Homo sapiens: one gene and its partners. The protein of the gene in region 1 purifies or fractionates together with the protein of each later gene. This does not show direct contact. Each region holds a gene or a part of one and is shown in the gene's direction. Other genes may lie near its edges.

The links.
Region 2: the proteins of ENTPD6 (region 1) and C1QTNF9 purify together in Homo sapiens (co-immunoprecipitation; one large-scale study listed by IntAct). This does not show direct contact.
Region 3: the proteins of ENTPD6 (region 1) and CELA3A purify together in Homo sapiens (co-immunoprecipitation; one large-scale study listed by IntAct). This does not show direct contact.

Annotation. Positions count from the first base shown.
Region 1 is NC_000020.11:25,219,559-25,223,262, forward strand, and holds part of ENTPD6 (ectonucleoside triphosphate diphosphohydrolase 6), read left to right. Parts: intron 1-1,673; coding exon 1,674-1,775; intron 1,776-3,279; coding exon 3,280-3,420; intron 3,421-3,544; coding exon of another isoform or gene 3,545-3,564; exon of another isoform or gene 3,565-3,704. UniProt on the Homo sapiens protein: Catalyzes the hydrolysis of nucleoside triphosphates and diphosphates in a calcium- or magnesium-dependent manner.
Region 2 is NC_000013.11:24,315,890-24,319,593, forward strand, and holds part of C1QTNF9 (complement C1q and tumor necrosis factor-related protein 9A precursor), read left to right. Parts: intron 1-92; 5' UTR 93-114; coding exon 115-280; intron 281-2,928; coding exon 2,929-2,991; intron 2,992-3,704. UniProt on the Homo sapiens protein: Probable adipokine. Activates AMPK, AKT, and p44/42 MAPK signaling pathways.
Region 3 is NC_000001.11:22,000,422-22,004,490, forward strand, and holds the start of CELA3A (chymotrypsin-like elastase family member 3A preproprotein), read left to right. Parts: upstream 1-1,235; 5' UTR 1,236-1,253; coding exon 1,254-1,296; intron 1,297-2,581; coding exon 2,582-2,667; intron 2,668-4,069. UniProt on the Homo sapiens protein: Efficient protease with alanine specificity but only little elastolytic activity.

The DNA of each region.
Region 1 (3,704 bases):
GGATTGCCATGGTCTGCTTCAGGGGCTGGGGCACGGCCCTGAGGCTGGTGGTGCCTCTCTTCCCTGATGGAACTGGCCAGGCCACAGAGGCCTTCCCAAGGCCTTAGTGTCTGATGTGTGTATGAGGCGCTCACCAGCACCTACGTGTGCTCCAGCCAAATGCCCTTACCTCAGCCCCCAGCGCCCCATTGGCCCAGCACCCCTGCCCACTTCTTCCGAGGGCCTGGTATCTGACAGGGTAGGATGTTCAACTGGAATTTTCATTCTCCTGTGCATGCCCTACTTCAGTTCTTTCTTTCAAATCCTGGTGTTTATCTTCATAATGGTATTCCTTTTGTTGCAAACAAAAACCATGTCTATGTCTCAGAAACAGCTGCAGCCCTTATTCTGGGGCCAAAAAACACCTATTATTTAGCCAATGAGAAAAGGCAGGTACCTCTTTGCCCTTTGTGGTTCCCAGGGAGTCGTGGCTCAGACCCTGAGTCCTCTCACACCCAGCAGAGCAGCAAGAAGGTCTCATGGTCTCCTCGTCAGGCTGTACAAAGTGCCTGTTTTAGACATTTGGGGGCTGTGAGGACCCAGGAGAATGAGTCTCTGTTTTGTTACCGGTTATTGCGTAACAGACCCCCCAAGTAGAGTGAAAGAACAGCAAACAGCAGTCGCGGCTGGAATCTCACAGCAGACCACACAGGCTCATCTGGGCAGCACCTCCGCTGGGGTCCTGGGGATCTGTGCAGCTGCATGTGGCTGTGGCAGCTGTCTAGACCCTCCCGCTGGGGTCCTGGGGTTCTGTGCAGGTGCATGTGGCTGTGGCAGCTGTCTAGACGCCCCCTGCTGGGGTTCTGGGGGTCTGTGCAGGTGCATATGGCTGGGGCAGCTGTCTAGACTCCCTGCTGGGGTCCTGGGGGTCTGTGCACATGCCTGTGGCTGTGGCAGCTGTCTAAATCCCCCGCTGGGGTCCTGAGGGTCTGTGCACGTGCCTGTCGCTGGGCGGCTGTCTAGACCTGGGCGCTCTTCCACATGGCCTCGCCCCAGCAGAGCAGCCTGGGACACTTTTGTGGTGGCTTCAAAAAAGGAAGGCTACCCTGATGCCACCATTTCCTGCCCATTCCATCAAGGAAAGCAGGTCCAGGCCAGAGTCCAGGGATGGGACCAGCACCTTTCGGTGGGACAGCAGCCTGCCATCCTCGAAAGGTGATACTGGGGCCAGCCCTGGGACCAATACGCTTCCTTTGCTGGTTTTGAGCCCCCAGCTTGTGTGTATTGGAGCAGCAGATTCCATTCAAGGCATGGTGGCACCTGGTGGCACTTGTTCTGGCCCTGCCACCAACCTACCAGCTACTCACAGCCTCAGTCACCTATAAAACTGGGTAATGATGGCTCCCCTCCTAAAAGGACTGTCGTCACACTTCACTGAACAGCCCTTGGCCCAGTGCCTGGCACCCGGCGTGCCCAGGGCCGTGAGCTGGGCATGGTCCTGGTAGCGGTGTGCTTCCTGGCCAACGAGGCTTTGCTGCCACTTCCCAGGGAGGTGTTGCCTTCCCAGTGGACCTGGAAGCCACTCAGCTTCCCCCATCCTGTGTCAAGCCAGGGCCTCCGCGACTCCTAGCTCAGCCCTAGTCCATGGCGGTGATATACCTTCCTTTCTCTTTCCTTTTTAATCTCTGTTTCAGCTAAGGATGGAAAGGAGTTGGTCAGCCCTTGCTTGTCTCCCAGTTTCAAAGGAGAGTGGGAACACGCAGAAGTCACGTACAGGGTTTCAGGGCAGAAAGCAGGTACGGGGAGGGTTGCTGCCTGTTGGTTTCTGCGGGTGAGAGTGGTGGCCTCCTCTCCCCCTTGCCTTTCCCACATCCCATGGGACGTTCCACGGGAGGCTCCTGACCTCTCTTTGAAGAGCCTGTACCTGCCCTGGAAGTGAAGGTGGTTTGGCTGCAGGGGCCTGTGTCTGTGCTGAGAGCCAGCTCCTTCCCTCTGCCTCTGTTCAACATTCCCCTGACTGTCACCAGAAGCTTCCTCCTGAGGGCTGATTTCCTAACAGGCCTGCAGGGAGGAAGGACTGGACCAGCTTGGGGCTGAGATGCAGGGCTGGGACTGGGAGCCCAGGCACTCTGTGCTGTGCTGGGCGGGAATAGAGGGAGGGTCTGCTTCCACCCATCCTGCTCGAGGCTATGGAGCCCGCTGGCCCTGGGCAGGCTCTAGTGCTCTGCACCCTTGCAGTTTCTTCTGAGAGAAATGTTCAAACGCCATTCCCAGACTGGGCACTCGGCATGAGGGGTGCATGCCTTCGCGAACCGTTCAGGTCCTTCCAAGTCAATCACCCACTGGTGCGTGTACCGGGGGGCCGCATCAGGCACAGCAGGACTGCACAGCTGTGTCCCACAGGAGGAGCCAGACAGTGAAGCTCATCGGGAAAGCCTTCCAAGAGAAATAACACGGGGCGGGGATCTGAGAGGGCGATCGCAGCTGTAACTAGGACAGCCAAGGACGGCCTCGTGGGGTAACATGGGATCTAAGACAGGAGGAGGTTTCAAGAAACTGCGCAGATCTGAAGCAGCAGCACCCCAGGCCGCACAAGCAGCACACACCGGGGCCCTCTGTCAGCTGCTGTGTTTAATGAACGAGGAGGAGGTGGTGTGGCTTGGTGGGGGACACCAGGAGGAAATGAGATCGAAGGGTTGGAGCATGGGTCTGTGGACCGTGGGAACCCTGGAAGCACTCGGAAGGATGGGGCCTGGTGGAGGAGGACTGGGAAAGCCGGGAAGCTGGGTCAAGGTGTGGGGTGTAGAGGCGCCCTCAGATGTCCACACGGTCCATTGGCCTCCGGGGTCCTCTGTTCCTGTTCTCCCTCAAGCCATGGGAGCTTGGCAAGTGAGCTGGGCCTCCACTTCCTTATCTATGACATAGGGAGGGTGCAGGCCCCCTGAGGAGGTGGGACTCCGGGCTGGCGGAGGGGGAATGTAGGGCAGATGGTCCCAACAGGCCAGAGGCCACTGGTGTCAGGCATCAGCAGCTTCCTCCTCAGAGTCCAGGTCTGCCGCTGCCTTCGTGCCCACGGTCTTCACTCCCTGCGCCGGGACCAACAATGCCCTGGCTCCTGAGGGCTGCTTTTGACCTGTGCGGGGAGCAGCCCCAACTTGGGGTGGGGTCTTACAGGCTTCTGGACCTGCCTTTTCCTGACAATTCAGGTCAGAGTCTCAAGTCCCCTGGGAGGGGCCCCAAGCAGCTGTGAGGCCTGGGTGCTCGGAGCCCACTGACCGCTAGCCTTGTGCTTGTCCCCAGCGGCAAGCCTGCACGAGCTGTGTGCTGCCAGAGTGTCAGAGGTCCTTCAAAACAGAGTGCACAGGACGGAGGAAGTGAAGCATGTGGACTTCTATGCTTTCTCCTACTATTACGACCTTGCAGCTGGTGTGGGCCTCATAGGTAAGGGGGCCCGGATGGGCTGAGCAGGAAGGTCGGGGCGGCAGGGGGCGGGGGTGGAGGGCGTGTGCTCCCCGAGGCAGAGGGCTGGTGGCAGGCAAGCAACCCTGTTGTCACATCCCTGCAGGAGGCCAGAAGCAGATTTGAGAAGGCGTCTCATCCTGAGTAGGAAAAGATCAGTTCTTTGAGCCCTTCAGTAAAACCTCGTGGCTGGTGACTTGCTGTTGATTCCAGTTCCTGCTGGAAGGCAGGTCCTGCCTTGCACTGGCCCACGTTGTCTCAGACTC
Region 2 (3,704 bases), on another chromosome or scaffold:
GCTCATCCATTTCCCACTGCACGGAACAGAGGCTGTGTCCAGGGCCCCAGCAACAAAGATTTCTCCTTTGGGTTTCTGTTTCCCTCTTTCAGTTCAGAGTCTGTCATCTGAACCATGAGGATCTGGTGGCTTCTGCTTGCCATTGAAATCTGCACAGGGAACATAAACTCACAGGACACCTGCAGGCAAGGGCACCCTGGAATCCCTGGGAACCCCGGTCACAATGGTCTGCCTGGAAGAGATGGACGAGACGGAGCGAAGGGTGACAAAGGCGATGCAGGTACTCACCTGACGGCTTCGGCTGCCTTTCAACTTCTCTCTTCATTCCTTTCATCTCATTCACTCATCATCTGTGTGATTTTCCACCTACCCACTCACACCCCATCCATCCATACATACATCAACCCAGCAACACTCACTGGAGCCTGACCCCATTCATCCATCCACCCATCTGCCCAGCAACACTCACGGGGTCTGCTCCATGCCAGACTCTGTGCCAGGTGCTGGTGGAGAGCACAGGGCAAGATCGCCATGACCCCTGCCCTCCTGGGTTCTCTCATCTCTGACACCGCAGAACATTTTCAGTAGTATACGATGTCATGGATCCTCCCATCTCAGGTGACAGGTATGATGGATTTTTGGCAACAAAAGGCTAATAGAGAGATCTGATCACGAATTATTTGGCAGCAAGCACCCAGCTGCAGTGCAGGTGAGAGCTAATACCGCATCATGCCATGAAGCAGGAGATGCGGAGTGACAGATGACACAAAAGGAGACGAGAATCTGAAACCATACAGCTGCTGCTTATGCATCTATATGACCTAGGTTGGGACCCTGTCCCAGGGTCTGGGGATCTGGGGGACAGGATTCAGCCTCTGGGAGGGAGATTTGCCAAAGCTGAGAAGTCCGAGTGGTTTCCATAACAACAACCAATAGACTTGGTTTCCGAATGGGGTACCATTCTTGAGGCCTGGTCTTGACCATAGGGTCACATATCTAAGGCATATGCAGAATGATCCATCTGGGTTAAGGGCACAGTTCAGTGGCATTACAAAAAAATATATCAAAACTTCTATGGACCTTTTTAAAGATAAGTTTGTGTTTCTAACACATCTCAGCTTATGGCATTTGGTGGCCTGATGATGTTTTGAGTGGGCTGGATGAAGCCAAGGGTCACCAGGAAGCAACATTCTTTCTAACCACCATCCTGCACATCTGCTCTGTGAGGTGTCTTCTCCTGGCTCACATCTCCAGCTCATTGACACTGTTCCAGTCCCCAGGTAGCAAACAGCCCAGTCCAAATGAATAGCAAAACCTTACCATTAATGAAATCAGGTCTTCTGCCCTCACACTGGGACCACAGTAGTGTGTGTGTGTGTGTGTGTGTGTGTGTGTATTGTATTTCTGAATATATAAGATTTTCATTTTTTGTTATAAAATTTTACACACAAAAGGAGATAAATAGGTGATAGATAAAAAATAGAGGACAAAGACAAACACTCCTATATTCAATACCAAATTTCTCTACCTCTTCCCTGTTGAATTTCTCTCCTCTTTTCTCACCAGTGTCCATTCTTTCAAGTTTTATATACTTCTTAGAAGCAAATTATGTATCTATTTTTCTACGTAGTTCATAGGTATTATATATAATATATATTACTTCTTAGAAGGATATTCATTCACATTGCTCACACTAAAAATTTACTTCATTTTTATCTTATCTTAAAGTGTATTTTTGTATATGTTTTATACCAAACATATTTTCCATATACTACCTGTGCATAATGTAGAAACATATAAATATCTACTGATTGGGGTCTGTGTTCATGCTTTGTGAGTTGTGGTTGCGTGATCATGAAAGCTCAGAGGCCACCGCTCTAGAGAATGGGAGAAACGAGAGCCAAGCAGGGAAACAAAAAGAGGGAAGGAGAGGAAGACACAGGGGAGCAGCCAGTGGAGGGGAGGGGAGGGGAGGGGAGCGCAGGGAGGGGCAAATGTAGGGATAAGCCCCCTCCATTCAGAGGTCCCACGCTGACCAAGGCCCCACTCAGGAGCGCTGGTGTCCCAGGAGAACAGACATCGTGACAGAAATAAGTCTGCCTGTGTCAGTCCTGTCTCAGGACCTGCAAGCCGGCCCAGCCTGCCCCTGTCGCCCCACAGCCACGTCAGTGGGTCTGAAGTATGGGAGTCTCTGCTGCTTTGTGAGAAGCCAGAGTCTGGGGTGAGCTGTGGCCCAATGAGCACTCTACTGCCATAGCCAGAGCCACCTTCAACCTGCTGACGGATAGCACGCCGACCTGGAGCTCAGGGGGGCCTGTTCTGAGCACAAGGACTTGAGTGTAGTCAGCAGAGCCCCACTCACCTGATGTTCTCTGCCAGCTTGATTGGTGGCATTTCCCCCAGTGTAAGGCACTAGAGGGATCCTTCCAGAACTCTCTCTTCTATCTTGGGATAGTGTCACGTAACCATAGTCATCTGTGTTTTCATAGGAGCCTAGTAAATCTTCCGTTCCACTCTCCTCAAGAGTAATGGAAGAGAAACAGAGTGAGGAAACCTCCTGGCACCTCCAACATTCAGACCACGTCCCAAGTCCTTGTCGCAGGAGAGGAACACAATCGTGACAGTCAGTCCCCATTGCACACACTCCCTCTTCGTCCTGTCTTGCTGTGCGCTCTAGGCACGTCCTAGAGATGGGCGCTTGGGAAGTCACTCAGTTCATTTCTTAGGTCACTTATCCCACGCAGCTCAGCACCCCAGATGCCCGCTCATGCCTGCCTCTCTCCACCTGCGCTTGTGTGGAGGACAGAGTGCCCGTCAGGGCGGGGGTCACCCCCAGACTCTCCAACACACATGGCTGATGGAGACCAATGGCCAGAAAAATCAGAAATGGAATTTCAACTCATGCCTGTTTTCTGCTTTTCCACCTAGGAGAACCAGGACGTCCTGGCAGCCCGGGGAAGGATGGGACGAGTGGAGAGAAGGGAGAACGAGGTTAGTAGTTCCTATTTATGGTGCTCTAATTCTGAGCTGTCGACTATTTAACAATATTACCATGGACAAGTCCTCCATGCTGATTATAATCTTACAATAAAGGCAACACAGTTCTTACTCTCCAGACGGGGGGATTCTGCAGGGATTGGCAGGCTTTGCAGAGGGCTGGGTAGTAAATATTCTCAACTCCGCAGGCCATACAGATCTGTCACCACTACTCAACTTCCCCTTGTAGTGAAAAGAAGCTGTAGATGCTCCATAAATAAGCATGGCTCTGTTCCAGTGACACCATATGTGTGAAGACTGAAATGGGAATTTCCCATGGTTTCCATGTATTGTGGAATATTATTTGTGACCATTTAAACATGCAAACCATGGCCGAGCACCATGGCCCACACCTGTAATCCCAACACTTTGGGAGGCCCAGGTAAGAGAATCGCTTGAACCTAGGAGTTCCAGACCACCCTGGGCAACATAGTAAGACTTTGTCTATACAAATAAAAAAAAAATTAGCTGGGCATTGTGGCACGTGCCTGTAGTCCCAGCTACCCAGGAGGCTGAGGTGGGAGGATCGCTTGAGCCTGGGAGGTTGGGGCTGCCATGAGCCATGATCTCGTCACTGCACTCCAGCCTGGGTAACAGAGTGGGTGACCCTGTCTCAAAGCAACAAAAAAACAAGCAGACAAACAAAACCCAGAAAAACAAAAAAACAT
Region 3 (4,069 bases), on another chromosome or scaffold:
CCACACCTCCTGGAGCACATGCCTAAGGTTTTCTCACGGTATAGACCTAGGAGGGAAACGGCTGGATCACCTGTGAATTCCACTTTCGGGGTCGCCTGCTCTTTGACCTCATCTCCCACCCCTCTCTACTTTGACTACCAAGCTCCTGTCACACTGGCCTCCCCTTCCTTGAACAAGTCAAGCCCATTGCAGCCTCCAGAACTTCGCACCTGCTGTCGCCTCCCTTCAGAGCGCGTTTCTTTCAGGGATTCCCGTGGCTGGCTTTTACTTATCCTCAGGACTCCATCAGATATGACCTCCTCAGCCCAAATGTCACTTTCTCTGTCCCCCCCATCTAAATGACTTACTCCCATTCCTACCCCAATCACCTATGTTTCATTTTCTTTTCTTCTCTGTTTTTTTTTTTGGTTTTGTTTTTGTTTTTTGAGACAGTGTTGCTCTGTGGCCCAGGCTGGAGTGCAGTGGCATGATCTCGGCTCTCTGTAGCCTCTGCCTCTCCGCTCCCAGGTTCAAGTGATTCTCCTCCCTCAGCCTCCCAGTAGCTAGGATTACAGGTGCTGGGATTACAGGTGCTCACCACCACACCTGGCTAATTTTTGTAGTTTTAGTAGAGATAGGGTTTCATCATGTCTCGAACTTCTGACCTCAAGTGATCCTCCCACCTTGGCCTCCCAAAGCGCTGGGATCACAGGTGTGAGCCACCGCTCCTGGCCTAGACTCAAACTCTAGAAGGGCTGAGACCATGCATTTTTCACAGCTGTATCCCCTAGAACAGTGCCTGATACATAGAGAAAAAGTGCTCAACAAGAATTTTTTTGTGGAGGTGGGTACTAATATAAATCTCATGTTAGAGAGCAGAAAACTGAGACTCAGAGAGGTTAAGCCATGCGCCCAAAGTCGCAGAGCTTGAAGGTGGCAGAACCAGGATTGAACCGTGGTCTGCCCGGTTCCAGTGCCCCTGTTCTTTCCGAAAGAGGAGGTCTTGTCCTGACATGAGCTTTTCTTCCTGAACTCTTGTTATCAGTTGGCCACTCCACACCACCTGTCCAGCCACCTGTTGGAGGGAACGCTAGGTCCTCCCTTTGGCTGTCACTTGTCCATCTGCAGCAGGCGAGGACTGTGGCCTTGGACCATGGGAGACCTGGAGTTCCACCACCTGTTCTGGGAGTGGGGCCCAATCAGCCCCCCTGCTTACCTTCTGCCCTATATTAGAGCCCCAGGCTCTGTGCCCTTTTCCTATCATCACAAAACTCATGATGCTCCGGCTGCTCAGTTCCCTCCTCCTTGTGGCCGTTGGTAAGACCCCAACCTGTCTGTGTGCTCCCTGGGCTGCCCTGGACTAGGAATCCTTGAAATCTACCACTCGCTCTGAGTCCCATGACATGCTATGCCTGGTTCCACAGGAGGGGGTCTCAGCTTGTACCCGGGGGCATGACTGTAGGGGCTTTCAGCTTATGATGGAGCAGGAGAGTGGAGGGGAAGCTGTGGATGGTGAAAGACCCCCAAAGGGCTGTGGTGGAAGTCCTTGATGGGGGCAGTAAACAAAGTCAAACGGTTAAGAGTTTGGACTGTGTGGTTGGACTTCTTGGGTTGGAATTTCCACAGTTCTACTTACCACTCCAACTCTCCTCTCACTCCCCCTACCTGGCTCCATATTCTATGCTCTGGCCTTTTCCTGGTCTCTCTGCCATATTACATTCCAGCTCAGGGCCACCTCTTCCAAACAGCCTCCCTTGACTGACAATAATGGTAACAGATAACATTGATTGAGTGCTTACTATGCCAGGCAGAATGTTTAGGGATTTTCTTATACTTTCTCATGTAATTCTCACAACAGCCTCAGGAGATCAGTACTATCATTATCCCCCATTTTACTGACCCTCAAGGAAGTAAAGTAGCTTATCATAGAACAAAAGGCAGAGCTGCACTTAATGTTTTTATTTTTTGCTTTTTTTTTGTAGAGATGGGGTCTTGCTTTGTTGCCCAGACTGGTCTCAAAATCCTGGCCTCAAGCAATCCTACCACCTTAGCCTCCTGAGTAGCTGAGATTATAGGCACATGCCACCATACCTGGCTACTTTATTTTATTGTACTTTATTTTTCTAGAGATGAGGTCTTGCTATGTTGCCCAGGCTGGTCTCAAACTCCCGGGCTCAAGCGATCCTCCCGCCTCGGCCTCTCAGAGCACTAGGATTACAGGTGTGAACCACCACACACAGCCCAGAGCTGCACTTTGAACCCAGGAAGTCCTTCTTTAAAGCCTCCACTCTGTATGACAATAGCTCTCACTTTTTGAGGGCTCATCGAGGGCCAGGCATTGTTCTAAGTGTATCAAGCTCTTCAATCCTCCCAATGAAGGAGGCCACATTTGAATCTCTATCCCTGGACTCCTGGGATTCTGGAAAGCCCTGCTCTAGTTTAAATGTTCACTGTTCATATGTGGTTACTGAGGTCCAGAGGGCGAAAGGGGCTTGCATGGGGTCACACAGCCAGTTGAAGGCATGGCTTGGACTGGGACCCTGGCCTCCTCTTTGCTTTTGGGGACCCTCCAGCTGATTGACAGCTCTCCTCTCCCCTCTAGCCTCAGGCTATGGCCCACCTTCCTCTCACTCTTCCAGCCGCGTTGTCCATGGTGAGGATGCGGTCCCCTACAGCTGGCCCTGGCAGGTAAGAGCAATAGCAGCTGCCCTCATTCCCACCGTGGGCTCTGGACCCTAAGCTCTAATGGCGTGGCATCCAGCCTTGACACCATTGCTCCCTTTGCAATGTCCACTTCAGCTTCCAAAGACCAGGCAGCCCTTGGACCATCTACTTCACGGGGAGGTTTTGCCCGTTTCATCTGTAACCCTCACTGGGCTATTTGCAACTTAAAATTGGAATCGGGGGTGAAGGAAATGCTAAACTCAAGGAGTTGGCACACTGATGGTGGAATTTCAGGCACTGTGTTGACGAAGTGAGATTTTGAGAGACTCATTTCTAGATTCCTAGGATGATACTACAGGGCTTTGAGGTCTGAAAGCAATAAGGGAGTGAGGGATCTTGTAAGGCCAGTGGAGGGAAGCTCAGAAGGCTGGACTTGATGTGCTGTGGCTATTTAAATTTAATTAAATTAGGCCAGGTGCGGTGGCTCACGCCTGTAATCCCAGCTACTCAGGAGGCTGAGGCAGGAGAATCCCTTGAACCTGGGAGTTGGAGGTTGCAGTGAGACAAGATTGCACCACTGCACTCCAGCCCCGGGCAACAGAGTGAGACTCTGTCTCAAAAAAAAAAATTAAATTAAATTATTATTACTATTATTATTGAGACAGAGTTTCACTCTTGTTGCCCAGGCTGAAGTGCAATGGCACAATCTTGGCTCACTGCAAACTCTGCCACCCGGGTTCAAGCAATTCTCCTACCTCACCTCCCAAGTAGCTGGGATTACAGGCACGCGCCACCAAGCCCGGCTAATTTTGTATTTTTAGTAGAGACAGGGTTTCACTGTGTTGGCCAGGCCAGTCTGGAGCTTCTGACCTCAGGTGATCCACCTGCCTCGGCCTCTCAAAGTGCTGGGATTACAGGTGTGAGTCACTGCACCCAGCTGAAATTTACTTACATTAAAAATGTTAACAATTCATTTCCTCAGTGCTTTTTTCTTTTCTTTTCTTTTCTTTGTTTTTTTTTTTTTTGAGACAGGGTCTTGCTGTGTTGCCCAGGCTGGAGTGCAGTGGTGTGATCTCAGCTTACTGCAGCCTTGACCTCCTAGGTCCAAGCAATAATCCCACCTCAGCCTCCTGTGTAGCTAGGACTACAGGCATGCGCCACCATGCCCAGCTAATTTTTATACATTGTTGTAGAGATGGGGTCTCACTATGTTGCCCAGGCTTGCCTCGAACTTCTGAGCTCCAGTGATCCTCCTGTCTTGACCTCCCACAGTGCTGGGATTATAGGCGTAAGCCACCATGCTTGGCCTGCTTGCCACATTTCAAATGTTCAATAGTCACATGTGGCTAGTGGCTACCATATTGGACAGCAAAGATATAGAACATTCCCATGATTATGGGAAGTTTTATCGGAGAGGGTCAGCAGG